Linked DNA regions of Homo sapiens. The protein of the gene in region 1 interacts with the protein of each later gene in a biochemical or structural test. Each region holds a gene or a part of one and is shown on either strand. Other genes may lie near its edges. The genes, in order: GNAZ and LRRK1.

The links.
Region 2: the proteins of GNAZ (region 1) and LRRK1 form a complex in vitro, tested with the Homo sapiens proteins (2 studies listed by BioGRID and IntAct, with this or other methods).

The regions. Positions count from the first base shown.
Region 1 is NC_000022.11:23,077,019-23,080,518, reverse strand, and holds part of GNAZ (guanine nucleotide-binding protein G(z) subunit alpha), read right to left. Parts: intron 1-3,500. UniProt on the Homo sapiens protein: Guanine nucleotide-binding proteins (G proteins) are involved as modulators or transducers in various transmembrane signaling systems.
Region 2 is NC_000015.10:100,925,589-100,929,604, reverse strand, and holds part of LRRK1 (leucine-rich repeat serine/threonine-protein kinase 1), read right to left. Parts: intron 1-4,016.

The DNA.
Region 1 (3,500 bases):
CTATCCTGAAGCCATAGTCCGAGCAGATGGGAGGAAGGACTACGGTTAGTGAACACAGTGTCCCCATCCTACAGACAACCCCAGGCTATGCCCCGGCTGGGCCTCCCAGTGTCCTTCTGCTAAAGGAAGGGGAGATGAGATGACCGGGGAGATGAGATGAACAGGGAGGCCCTTCCCTGTAACCCTGTGCTGTCCTGGCTCTGGACACCCTCAGCCACCTGTCCTGTCTTTTGGCCCACAGCCACCACGGCTGACCAGACAAAGGGTGATAGTGTCGCCTGAGGAACACTGACTCAGGAGGAAATCAAGCCAGATATTTCTCTGGGCCAGGAGTAAATAAATAAATCAATATGCAAAGGTTCCACCTATGGAGGAGAGGGTGGCCATGACAGCAGAGAAGAAGTGGGGCCTTCATTAAGAGCCAAATCAAAGAGGTTGCTGCCTTGGAGAGAGCCGTAGCCCCAGGCTCCTGGCTCCCCAGTTTCCCCAGGGAAGGAAACTGCTGACTCCATCAAACCCTCACTTGAGTGGGGAATCTGATTTCACCTTCTGGGTCTTTGAGGCCCTGCAACCTCCTGCCCTCTGCCTCCATGTGTGGCATCCCACAATCCCATCCCCTACCTTGGGGACCTAGGGGCATGAGTGGTGTCCACTACATGCCCAGCACGCCTTCCCTGCGTCCCTTTCCTTGAGAACTGAGGCTGGCACCACAGGTTGTGGCTGGACCCAGCCAGCCTCAGGGGAACCCTTAATTGCCCTGACTGTCCAGAATTCTACCACTCACTCCCGCTAGCCAGCCCCAGCCTCTCATCTGTTTTGCAGCAGTATGACTTCTCTGGTCTTGCTGTCTCCAGCCCCCTGTGCCCTGTGCTCCACCAGCAGCCAGGGGCATCCTTGTAAAAATGAGGCAGAGTATGTCTCACTTGTGCTTGAAACCTTCTCATGTTTGCTCCCGACGCTTGCTTGACATGGGCAGACCCCGAGTCAAAGTCCAGCCAGGGCACCAGGGCTGTGCAATGCCTGGCCTCTCTGACTCCCACGCCCATGCTCCCCCTCCCCCACTCCTGCCATGCTGCCTCTAGCTGCCTCTCTAGCACCATCCCTCACTCTTAACTCAGGGCCTGTGCACTGGCTGTTCCTTCCTCCTGGAAAACTCTTTGTCCAGAAAGCCAAGTGGACTTCGCTTCCGCGCCCTCTCCCCATCCAATGGCTCAGATGTCCCTTCCTTAGGAGGCCTCCCTGCCCATCCTATTTACGATGGAAAATGACCCCCATATTCGCACACAGCCACACCACGTGTGCTGCCTTGCCCCAAGCATGGTCCCTTTCTAGCACACTGTATAATTTACTTAGAGTGTTTATCGCCCACCTCTTTCCCACTGTGCCATAGGGCAGGGACTGTTGGTCTGTTTGTTCATTGATGTATCCCATGTGCCCACATGGACCTAGCACCAAGCAGGTGCCAATAAATCAATCCCAGGCCCTCGTAGTGACTGAGTGAGGAATCGGTCAACGTGGCTCACGGAGGGGATAGTTGGGGACTTCTGGGAGGTCTTCTGGAAAGGCCCGTGGCCTTCCCTGGGTGGACACGGGTAGACGCACAGCCCCCGCCCACCTGGACTTGGCCGATCCTGATGCTGCCCCACGACTAAGCCCTCAGGCCCGGGAGCCAGGATGTCCCCTCATCTTGTAAGCCCTTTGGGGCTGGGCTTCTGTTGCTACCCCTGCAAGTGTGCTCCCACCCCACATACATTGCATGGCCCCTCAGCCCCCTTAGAAGCCCTGGCCCTCACCCTTGGCCTTCTTCCTGTGCCAGTGATGGGGATAATCCCCCAAACCCTGGCCCACCCAGAGCCTGGGGCTGCAGCCCATTCCCTGTGGTCCCTGGGGACCGCAGTGGCCACACCCTCCACACCTCCTCTATCCATTCCACACCATCCTGGGAGGAGGGAGAGCCCCAGAACAGCCAGCGTGGCAAGACAAACACACTGGAGACTGAGGCCAAGCACTCCAGGAGCCACGACAGAGATGGGGGTGTCAGTGTGGCCAGGAGACTCCTTGGAGGAGGTGGGCAGTGTTGGGGGGACAAGGGCAGCCCCACCAGTGCCTCTGTGTCCCAGCCACGGGGTGGGGCAAGGCTGGGCATGGCTGTGCTTGCGTGCGTGGTGTTATCATAGAGGAAATCAATGCCTGGCACTGGCCCAGTGTTTAAGGGAAATGAATAGATTTTGGCCGAGGACAAAGAGAGTTTGATTAATCCGAAATTGGATAATGGAGGCAACACTCTAATTATTTTTCTTCCCAGCATTTCATCGAGAAATATGTTTGCACAGCATATCAGAGGTAACTGAGCGGGTGAGGGGGTGACCATGCTGGAGGAAAGCCCAGCTCGGAGACAGGCCACCCGCACCCGCCCTCACCAGCAGGGGTCCTGGTAGCCACTCTACAGGGCCACAGGAAGCAAGAGGGCTGGGTGGGGCTGGCCTGAGGCCACATGCAGCTGGGGCAGCTAAGGCCAGAGGGACATGCCATGCAGAGCTGGGCAGGAGGAGGCATGAGGGCCAAGCCCTCATGGTGGAGTTGCTCCTCCCCTGGCCTGGCCACAGTTAGGGGTAGGGCCACTAGTGTGGGGGTGCAAGAGGAGTAGGGGTGAGGTACCACCAGTTCACAGGGGGTCAGGGCCTGCTGGGGTCAGGGTGAAGGCTGTAGGTGCCAAGTTCTCCCACCCATAGTCAGAAGGGTCTTCAGAAGGCCCCTCTTGGCAGCTTGGAAGGTTTTCCCAGCTTTGCCTCTGGGGAAGCCTGATTAGCTGCTCCATAGCCAAGGTCAGACAGGACCACCGGGCCCCACAAACACAGAGCCTGGTACTTTACATGCCTCAGCCCTCCTTAGTCACCTTGCCCCCTCCTCCCTTGCTGACCCCACTCCTGCAACACCTGGAGCTGAAACCACACGGTTTAGCACCTTGTTTCCGTGGCCATCCAGCCTCCCAATTCCAAGAAGGCTTCTAGGGGCTCCTTGCTGGAACAGAGATCAACATCAGGTGTACATCCAAGAGGAGGCTCCCGGCCTTGTAGAGTGGTTGAGTCTCTACCACTCATTCACTTATTCATTCTTCAGTGTACAGAAAGAGGCTGCCATGAACGAAGCATGGGGTTGGACCCTGAGGTCACTACAGGGAGTGAGGCATCAAATGAGAGAAGAGACAGTCAGCAAGCAATGACCTGAGCTGCTCATGGGACTCAGGAAGACGGAGGCCAGTCCTTCCCAATAAGGGGTTAGCATCAGTGTCACTAAGGAAGGGGCATGTAAGGAGAGATAGGGTGGGTTAAAGCTGCTAGATAGGAGGGGGTACAGTGGTGAGGTTCACCAGTCACTGGCAAGCTCATCTAAATCCTGCCTCCCGTGCCCGCTGCAGACATCACTAATCGACCATGACTCTTTCCCTCTGGGCTGCAGCACAGCCTTAGAATCCTCTTCAGCACAGCATGCTTTGGACG
Region 2 (4,016 bases), on another chromosome or scaffold:
AGGCTGGCTGCCACCCTAGAGGCTCTTCCTAATTTGATCTATTTCCTAGTTCTATTTCTGGAAGGCAGGAAGAGACCCTACTTGAGCAAACCTCTTAGCTCCTATATTAAGGAGTTGTATTTCAAATACAGATTCGCAAAAGCCAAAGGAGAAAAAAACAAGACATTGGAAGTAGCCATGAAACAACCTGGGATTTGAAGAACTTCTGGAATGTTCCTTCTCCTCCTTTGGTCCATGCTGGGTCCGGTGGTGGGCAGTGCTCTGAGAGGTGTGTGACTGTGGCAGGGCTTTCAGGACCGAAGCGACGGCCACTCACAGAGAGCTGGGGGGGCGAGCCACTGCCTGGGTGATGTCTGCTCAAGTTCCACCCACCCTCCGCAATCCAGAAGTCTTCCCAAGTATTCTCCACCTGAATTATGTGGAAGTTTCCTGACTTCTCTACTTTCCAGGACAGCTCTCCTTGGCTGGCGGGACTGGTTTTTCCACTCTGGCTGGTGTCAGACATACTCAGAAGAATGAACATCTAATGACATGTTTGTCAAAGTAATGCGCGTCCTGCAGCCCATGCCCAGCATCTCATTGACAGCTGCTCTGTCAGCTGGCAAACTCTACGCCCATCAAAGCTTTCCAACCATTCCTCTTGCACCGCAGGCGAGCTGACTGCTGCTGGTGCTAATGAGGTTGAGATTGTCACACACCTTCCTGGGACACAATTGTGTTGCACAAACACACAGCGGGCCGCACGGCAGGGCAGACACACACAGACCCCAGCCTCACACCAGCTGGGCAAAGCCCCCCACATCCAGGGGCTTTGAAAGGATTAACCATTGTAAACAAACATGAGCTGAGGTCACGCAAGTCACAACAGGTAGGGGGTGTGAAAAGGCGTGCCTAGTACACAAATAAAAAATTAAAAATACCATTACCCCAACACCCAAGAGTAGACACTCTTTTTTAAAGTGTGGGTCTTTTTCTAACGCACACGTGGAAGTATAATAAGAACGTCGTCGTTTTCAATCACGTTATCTTCCAAGGATTTTTAAAGCATGAGAAAGCTGTCCCTACATAATTTTGAGTGTCGTTAGTTTTCCTTCTGGCGGCCAACTTTTCTCAGCCGGAGCTGGAAATTAGGCCTGAACAGTGTTCCCTGAGTGAGGCTGGTGGATTTGGGGGGTGGGAGAGGGGAAACAGGGCTCCCTATCATCCCAGGAAGTCTAGGAGAAGGTGGGATGGGACAAATCCAGCTTAGGCTCTGGGGACATGTGCAGAGGGTGAGTCCTGCGGGGGGATCAGCTGCAGTCATAGTAAGTCAAGTATTCCGCATTTATTCCAGAAAGACTTCAAGGCAAAGAGGCCAGTGGAGGCAGATCTAACTTTGGATGTAAGCACAGGAGGTTTACCGTTTAGATTCTAAACACAAATCATCAGTACTTAAATAAACAATAATTTAAAAATAACTTGCAATATTATTCGTCTGGATGCAAAAGAAGGCAAAACAAAACAAAAAGCAATGTGTAGATATTGCAGGAAACATAAACAGCACCGATGAGCAAAGCACAGTGACTGCAATCCCAGCACACAGACGTGGCCACACGCCACCCTTTGAGCATTACCTGCTCCTTGGCTGTAGTCTTAGTGTACACATTTATTAATATATTCTGCGAAAATGAAATCCAACATGCAATGCGTTAAAATTGGGCTTTACAGAGGGAGCACTGTAGGCTTTAGTCCCTGGAATTAATAACTTCTGTTAGTGAGCTCCAGGGCTGGGGCTCACAGGCTCAGTTCTGCTGGTACCACCTGTGGGACCTTAAAACTCTGAGTATGGGTATAAATTAGTAGCTTCTCACCAGATTCCTTATGAGGATTTGGTTATTATTGTAATTCATTAACATGTAACATAATTTTCTTAATGCTAAACAGGGGACAGAACTTTCTGGGGTGTTTCAGGCTATCTTCCTCTCCTCTTCAACTCTGTGTTCTCTGTATTAGGTCACTGCACAAACACCTCCCTCATTCTCAGGGGTTCCCAGGGTGTCACTTCCCTGTCCTGTCCCTACTTCAAGCTCCTTGAACAGTACACAGTGAAGGCTGCTGAGGTCACGTCAGGGTCCTTGGCCCTTGTGTGTGTCCCTTGGGTTATACAGAACAGGGATAGCAGGGATTCCTGAGATCCCACTGGGGAAAGAGGCCATCAGAGCAGAGTCAGGAGAGGACACCTCCTAAGGAGCAGTGCCAAGCTCAGATGCAGGCCTTTAGGGAGAATCATGGGGGCTGGGGAGTGCCACACTTTGGCCTTTCGGAACACCTTAACATTTTCTGGTTATCTGTCCTGCCACGAGCTTGGAGGTGGGGATGGGTTTGTCCAAAGCCCATTGCGCCCCGGTCCCTGGGACCTGTAAGAATCAACGGGGGATCCCTGGGGACCTAGAAACGCAGGCTGTCTGTGCCCCAGGCCTCCTGAATGAGATTCTGCATTTCATCAGGATCCCCAGGGGACATGTGCACCTGATAATTTGAGAAGTGCTGCTCTATGGGACTCAAACCATTTAGATGGCCTGATTCTCAACTTTAGCTACACGTTAGAATCACTAGGGAACTTTGAAAAATTAGCCATGCTGGCCGGGCGCCGTGGCTCACACCTGTAATCCCACCCCTTTGGGAGGCTGAGGTGGGTGGATCACTTGAGGTCAGGAATTCTAGACCAGCCTGGCCAACATGGTGAAACTTCGTCTCTACTAAAAATACAAAAATTAGCTGGGCGTGGTGGCGCACGCCTGTAGTACCAGCTACTCAGGAGGCTGAGGCAGGAGAATCACTTGAACCTGGGAGGTGGAAGTTGCAGTGAGCTGAGGTCATGCTACTGCACTCCAGCCTGGGTGACAGAGCAAGACACTGTCTCAAAAAAAAAAAAAAAAAAAAAAGAAAAAAAGAAAAGAAAAAGAAAAGAAAGAAAGAAAATGAAAAAGAAAAAATTACCCATGCTTGTTCACTCCCCGCCCCCCTGCCCCAAGATGCTGCTCCAGTGGGTCCAGGTGGTGCCAGGGCCCTGCCGGTTTGAGCCACTACCCAGTGACTGTGTGGGCCGTGGTTGAGAAGCACTCCTTTAGATCACCAACTGTTGACCAGGAGGGGAGGGAGCAGCGCCTCCTGTGGGCTTTTTCAGATGACACAGTCACCTACCCTACAGGCCCCAAACAGACCCAAGGTCCCTGTCCCCACCCTCGTCCCTCAGGGCTGCGAAGAGGAGCAGCAGGAGGATAAGGGAGCCTCACGTGCACTGGAAAGGTGGAGGTGCTACCCCCAAATCGGGGACTGCGTTCTATCACCCACGCCACCTCGATCTCACACCAACAGAGCAAGGTCTTCCTACCACACAACTGAAAAAAGACACACGTCTAATACAAAGAAAAAGAAAATTTACAAAGATGCAAGTTGAACACTCTGGAAAGATTTAGTGCTGGGCAATGTCAAGAAGCAAATTCGTTTCCCATTTCATAATGTGATGGATGTGAAACGACACCTTCCAGAAACATCACCCTGGTCAGCTGCTGGACATTTCAGATGGAGTGAAAACACTCAAACAACTGAACAAAGTGTCTGCCAAGCCAGGTACAGTGGCCGATCGTTAGTTAACACGGTTAAGGGTACAAACGTGGGCCTCTCAGACCCAACCTGTTGACCCTTTCACCTCCCATAGTGTGGCCTAGCATTTAAGAATGAGTGTTGCAGCATTAAGACAGGGTTCAGATGGCAATTCTGTGATTTCTGAGTTGTTGACCTTGAACACGTTTCCAGGCTTCTCTTACCCTCATGTTCCTCAGCTATAAAACGGAAATAAAAGTACCATGTGCCAGGTTGTCGTGAGGATTTTATGACATTATTTCGTAAAGTTCTGAACTTTGTACATGTAGTGCCTGGTACATACTAAGGGATTGACAAATATTTGTAAACGATGATATCCTATTGGTCTTAAAGGTGGTGCAAGTGTAGCGGAAAATCTGGCAAAATACGTG